2 linked regions of the Homo sapiens genome follow. The protein of the gene in region 1 purifies or fractionates together with the protein of each later gene. This does not show direct contact. Each region holds a gene or a part of one and is shown in the gene's direction. Other genes may lie near its edges.

What was found. Proteins that work in one complex are often made in the same cells at the same time.
Region 2: the proteins of DCT (region 1) and ALG11 purify together in Homo sapiens (affinity purification with mass spectrometry; one large-scale study listed by BioGRID and IntAct). This does not show direct contact.

What each region holds. Positions count from the first base shown.
Region 1 is NC_000013.11:94,466,164-94,469,817, reverse strand, and holds part of DCT (L-dopachrome tautomerase isoform 1 precursor), read left to right. Parts: intron 1-772; coding exon 773-1,072; intron 1,073-3,159; coding exon 3,160-3,260; intron 3,261-3,654. UniProt on the Homo sapiens protein: Plays a role in melanin biosynthesis. Catalyzes the conversion of L-dopachrome into 5,6-dihydroxyindole-2-carboxylic acid (DHICA).
Region 2 is NC_000013.11:52,029,599-52,031,902, forward strand, and holds part of ALG11 (GDP-Man:Man(3)GlcNAc(2)-PP-Dol alpha-1,2-mannosyltransferase), read left to right. Parts: coding exon of another isoform or gene 1-1,507; 3' UTR 1,508-2,304. Other genes in the region: UTP14C (U3 small nucleolar RNA-associated protein 14 homolog C), read left to right, coding at 1-1,507. UniProt on the Homo sapiens protein: GDP-Man:Man(3)GlcNAc(2)-PP-Dol alpha-1,2-mannosyltransferase that operates in the biosynthetic pathway of dolichol-linked oligosaccharides, the glycan precursors employed in protein asparagine (N)-glycosylation.

The sequences.
Region 1 (3,654 bases):
CAGGCGTGAGCCACCGGGCCAAGCCATGTATTTATTTTGGTTTCATCTTTAGCTTGCTGTGTATTTTCTTCCTTCTCTAAATCAATGAACTGTTCTGTGTCATCCCTTTTTGTGGGCGTGGAGTGGACGCAGGAGGAGACACGCCTGCGATCCTGGGAGGAAGGAGTGTGTGCATGAGTCTGCTACTGCTGCCGTAACAACATCCCACAGACTAGGCAGCTTAAACACTGAAATTCACCCTCCCACAGTTCTGGAGGATGGATGGCTGAGATCAGGGAGTTGGTTTCCTCTGAGGGCTGTCTCCTTGGCTTGCAGATGGCTGTCTTCTCCCTGTGTCTTCATGTGGTCTTCCTTCCAAAACTGTGTCCAAATTTCCTCTTCTTTTGAGGACACCAGTCATATTGGATTAGGGCCTACTCTAATTACCTCATTTACCCTTAATTACCTCTTTAAAGACACTATCTCCAAATATAGTCACATACGAGGTATACTGGGGCTAGGACTTCGGGGACACGGTTTAGCTCATTGCAGTATACAGTGTATTTCATGTCCTGTTTCTTTGCTGGGAATGTGTCTAGGAAACCCTCTAGTGCTTAGTCCACTTGGAGATATAAACATTTAAGAGGAGACCATGGGAGGAAAATTGACTTTCTTTGCCTTTGTGTAAGCACCTTCATCTTCTCTTCCATTCAAATTTCAGAGTACAAATTCAGAAATTTCTTCCAAACGACATAAACCCCCTTCCTTTCCATCTTTCTGTTTTGTGAACTAGGAAACTTTGCCGGCTATAATTGTGGAGACTGCAAGTTTGGCTGGACCGGTCCCAACTGCGAGCGGAAGAAACCACCAGTGATTCGGCAGAACATCCATTCCTTGAGTCCTCAGGAAAGAGAGCAGTTCTTGGGCGCCTTAGATCTCGCGAAGAAGAGAGTACACCCCGACTACGTGATCACCACACAACACTGGCTGGGCCTGCTTGGGCCCAATGGAACCCAGCCGCAGTTTGCCAACTGCAGTGTTTATGATTTTTTTGTGTGGCTCCATTATTATTCTGTTAGAGATACATTATTAGGTGGGTTTTTTCCTTGGCTGAAGGTATATTATTACAGGTTTGTGATTGGGTTGAGGGTATGGCAGTGGGAAGTAATTTCATGCAAGTTAATTAAGAGAGCAACCACAAGGCAGCCTTAGGTTTATGAAAGTCGTAGAATTATCAAATACCGCCTGGAGTTAGAAGGAAGCAGTTTCTTCCTGTGCATTGGATGCAGACACTTTAAATGTTCTCTCCTCTACCGTATGTTCTTGGTTCAAAGTGTAAACTTTTCTCTGTGAAGCTGTTAATCATCAAAGATGTGAGTTGGTGAGGTGGAGGCGAATTCCTTTTGATTTCAGAAGAAAATATTTGCGAATCTGGCCATGGAAGCCCTCTCTGACCTTTTCTCCAAATTAGAGGAATTAACTGAACATGTGCTAAGGCACATGAAGCTTCTTTGTGCGGAATTAGAGTGCTCATGTTGGGAGTGGGCATCTTGTTAAACTCACAGGATAGATCAACTTTGGATGGATTTTAGACAGTCTATCACATGATAGACTTTCAGATAATCATTTATGGTACTCCTGCATGGTCCGGAATCCCCAGGTTTCTTGGAGCTTTATTGTCAAGGAAAAGTACAAGCTTAGCCACAGCAATGTAGAGTTTCTGCTGCTTAGCTCTTTGCAACACAGTCATGTTGGATGCTTGAGAAATTGGTGACCTGCCCTTCCAAGTCTTAAAAATTGGGGGCTGGGTAGGACTTGGAATGAGGGGGTTGTCTGTTACAAACTTCATGTATCAAGTAGGTTCAGCTTTGTCCTTATTTTTCAGTCAAAGGAAAGCCATAGACACCAATGTATTCCAGGAGGGCTTGACTCCATCCTAGATTCTTCCCATAGCAGTTCTTGAATGCATGGCTGCACGTGCACCTCTCCCCATTTTTGGGGTCCTTCATTGGGGTCAGGATGAATGAAGACATCAAGCTCACTTTGAAGAGCAAGATTCTGATTTGGACAGGTTCATCCTTCTGCTCATCACTTGTTCCCCTTCAATTGATACCCTCTCGTTGTTGGGTTCTGAGAATTTGAAACCTTGCTCTGAATTGAACATGAAAAAGGGCCGTGTAGCCAACATCAGGGACAGCAGTGCTTTTCTCAGTGTGAGTCTTTTAAAACTTGCCTTACAGGTAAGCATCTGTCTGTCTTTATCGATAGATAAGGAGGCTCTTTTGGCTATAAACCTTTATAGTTTTCCTGTTATCACTCTGAGGAATTATTGCTTTATGAGAGAGTACTCTCTCAAGAGGAAAAGAAAGTCCTAGTTTCTGGTCATAGCTACGAATTAAATTTATATTCACGTCTGTTCAGCTCTCTGAAGTTGTTATAGGTATTTTGGACAAGAACTAAAGTTAGCTAAAGTTTCCACATAACCATCAAAGCTGTTATGAAAAAGGGAAGAAGGATGGACCAGGCAGTAAGGAGGTCATTAAATCGTCCAGAGCTTTTCACTAAAATTGGCAGTTCCAGTGTCCAGCCTAAATGGCTTGAATGTATTTTTCTCTCTTCTGGTCTCAGCGAACATGCTTGTCAGCTAGTAGTTATAACAGATTGATGGGTGAGGCAAAATACGCGAAAGTTCTTTTTGGTTACATAAATACTGCATTAGGACTAAGTGCAGTTGAAGTTACAATATTATTAATTAATCCCTCCCTTTTAAATTTATATCTTTGTGAAGCATAGGTTAGCAAATGCCTTTAAAAAATATATTTCCTTTAGGTCTTAATGATCTATTCTTTTGGATAGTCTATTTCACCTGAATGGATTGTTGCTTACAAATTAAATATGTATCAGGGGCTCCCAATCCTGAAAGTCACCTGAATTTCCTGGATCTCTGCTAGAAATCAACCTTTTAAGAGATAAAGGAGGGTTTATCCTAAAAGTACTAGTTACTTCTGAAATTCATGTCATTACTATTGCTTTTGGAGATATAAATAACAACAAAACTTTTTTTTCTTACTACTATAAAACATCATGGACTTATTGGCTCTATAGATACAGCCCAGGTAAGATTTAACATTTTAAAAAATTCTATTCTGTCATCTCTAATATGTTTCCCAATTGTTTCAGGACCAGGACGCCCCTACAGGGCCATAGATTTCTCACATCAAGGACCTGCATTTGTTACCTGGCACCGGTACCATTTGTTGTGTCTGGAAAGAGATCTCCAGGTAGGTCAAAACTATGCATTTAGTTCTTTTAATTTTTTAAAAAATTTATTGTATATATTTAAGGCATACAGTGTGAATTTTGATATACTTATCTTGATACTCATACAAGATAAGTGATTAGTGCACTAAAGTAAATTAACATACTCAGCATCACATAGAGATATCTCTTTTTGTGTGTGTGTGGTAAGAGTACCTAAGGTCTACTCTCTTGGCAAATCACCAGTACACAATACAACGTTAACTATAGTCTCAGACCTCGAGTTATTTATCCTACATAACTGCAACTTTGCACCTTTCAGCCTACATCTTCCCATTTCTCCCAGTCCCTTGTAACTACTATGTAACTCTCTATGTATTCACTCTTTTTCTTTTTTCTTCTTTTCTTTAGATTCCA
Region 2 (2,304 bases), about 42 Mb from region 1:
AGAGTTTGAGCAGCTACAGAAGGTTAATCCAACTGTGGCACTGGAAGAAATGGAAAAAATTGAAAATGCCAGAATGATGGAAAGAATGAGCCTTAAGCACCAAAACAGTGGGAAATGGGCCAAGTCAAAGGCAATTATGGCCAAATATGACCTGGAGGCTCGCCAAGCTATGCAGGAACAGTTGGCCAAGAACAAAGAACTGACACAGAAACTCCAGGTAGCCTCTGAGAGTGAGGAAGAGGAGGGAGGCACAGAAGTGGAAGAACTCCTTGTCCCTCATGTAGCGAATGAAGTGCAGATGAATGTGGACGGACCGAATCCCTGGATGTTCAGGAGCTGCACCAGTGACACCAAAGAGGCTGCAACACAGGAGGACCCTGAGCAAGTGCCAGAGCTTGCAGCTCATGAGGTTTCTGCAAGTGAGGCAGAAGAAAGACCAGTGGCAGAGGAAGAAATTTTGTTGAGAGAATTTGAGGAAAGGCAATCCCTTAGAAAAAGATCTGAGCTCAACCAGGATGCTGAGCCAGCAAGCAGTCAAGAAACAAAAGATTCTAGCAGCCAGGAGGTGCTGTCCGAATTGAGGGCACTATCTCAGAAATTGAAGGAAAAACATCAGTCCAGGAAGCAAAAAGCAAGTTCAGAGGGGACTGTTCCCCAGGTCCAGAGAGAGGAACCTGCCCCAGAAGAAGCGGAACCCCTATTGCTACAGAGGTCAGAGAGAGTACAAACTCTGGAAGAGCTAGAAGAGCTGGGAAAAGAAGATTGTTTTCAAAATAAGGAGCTTCCCAGACCTGTGTTAGAAGGACAGCAGTCAGAGAGGACCCCAAATAATCGGCCTGATGCCCCTAAGGAGAAGAAAGAGAAGGAGCAACTGATCAACCTACAGAACTTCCTGACCACACAGTCTCCTTCCGTGAGGTCTTTGGCAGTTCCCACAATAATAGAGGAGCTGGAAGATGAAGAGGAGAGAGACCAAAGGCAGATGATAAAGGAAGCTTTTGCTGGGGATGATGTCATCAGAGATTTCTTGAAAGAGAAGAGGGAAGCTGTGGAGGCGAGTAAGCCAAAGGACGTGGACCTGACACTACCTGGCTGGGGCGAGTGGGGTGGTGTGGGCCTAAAGCCCAGTGCCAAGAAAAGACGCCAGTTTCTCATTAAAGCCCCTGAGGGTCCTCCAAGAAAAGATAAGAATTTGCCAAATGTGATTATCAGTGAGAAGCGCAACATCCACGCAGCAGCTCATCAGGTACAAGTGCTTCCATATCCATTTACCCACCATCGGCAATTTGAAAGGACCATCCAGACCCCTATAGGATCCACATGGAACACCCAGAGGGCTTTCCAAAAGCTGACTACTCCCAAGGTCGTCACCAAGCCAGGCCATATCATTAAGCCCATAAAAGCAGAGGATGTGGGCTACCAGTCTTCCTCAAGGTCAGACCTGCCTGTCATACAGAGGAATCCAAAACGAATCACCACACGTCACAATAAAGAAGAAAAACTGTAGGTTGTGTAGCTGGAGAAGTGACAGTCAGGGGCCCTGATTCCACTTCCTTTGGTCCAGTTTTACTCTGCTACAGGGTGGATTCCAAAACTGGCTCAGCACATTGCATGTAGTTGAGCCACATTTTTTAAAAAAAGAAAATGGATGACCATTAATTGACTAGCATTTTAGAATTGATCAGACATTAGAACACAGAAAAATTCTAGTACATTTAAATTCTAAACAATACAGTGGATGACCCTTTTGAATATACCTAATGATTTCCTTAAAAAAGAAATTTTAAACAGACTTGTTTAATCGTGTTCTCAAAGCATACAGTCAAGAGGTGGGACTGACTGATGCTTTATAGGTGTGTGTAGGGTGGTAGAGGCCAAGGTGCTGCCAGCAATCCTTTCCATACTAGGTACTGGTGAAAATTGTTTTTGTTTATGCTGTCAGCACATTTGTGTGGGTCTCTCATTGTCCCTTAACAGTGCCGCATCTCAGCCTGGAAGTCAGCTTTAAGTCATTCAAGAGAACCTCAGGCTGTTTTTCTGACAGTGATGATATGATATACAGATACATCCACAGGGTATCTATTACCAGCATAATGCATTGTAAGATGGCAAGGTGGCATTTTGAAAGAGCGCTGGGCAAGCAGTTAGCACATCTGGGCCTACCTTCAGCTTCTTCATTTACAAACTTCTGACCTTTTGACACTAAAGCTGCTCCTTTATCTTTCTGAGTCTCAGATTCTTCATCTGTAATCTGGAGTTGTTAATTCCAGTCCTTACTACCTTTTAGAGTTGGAATGAGATGGA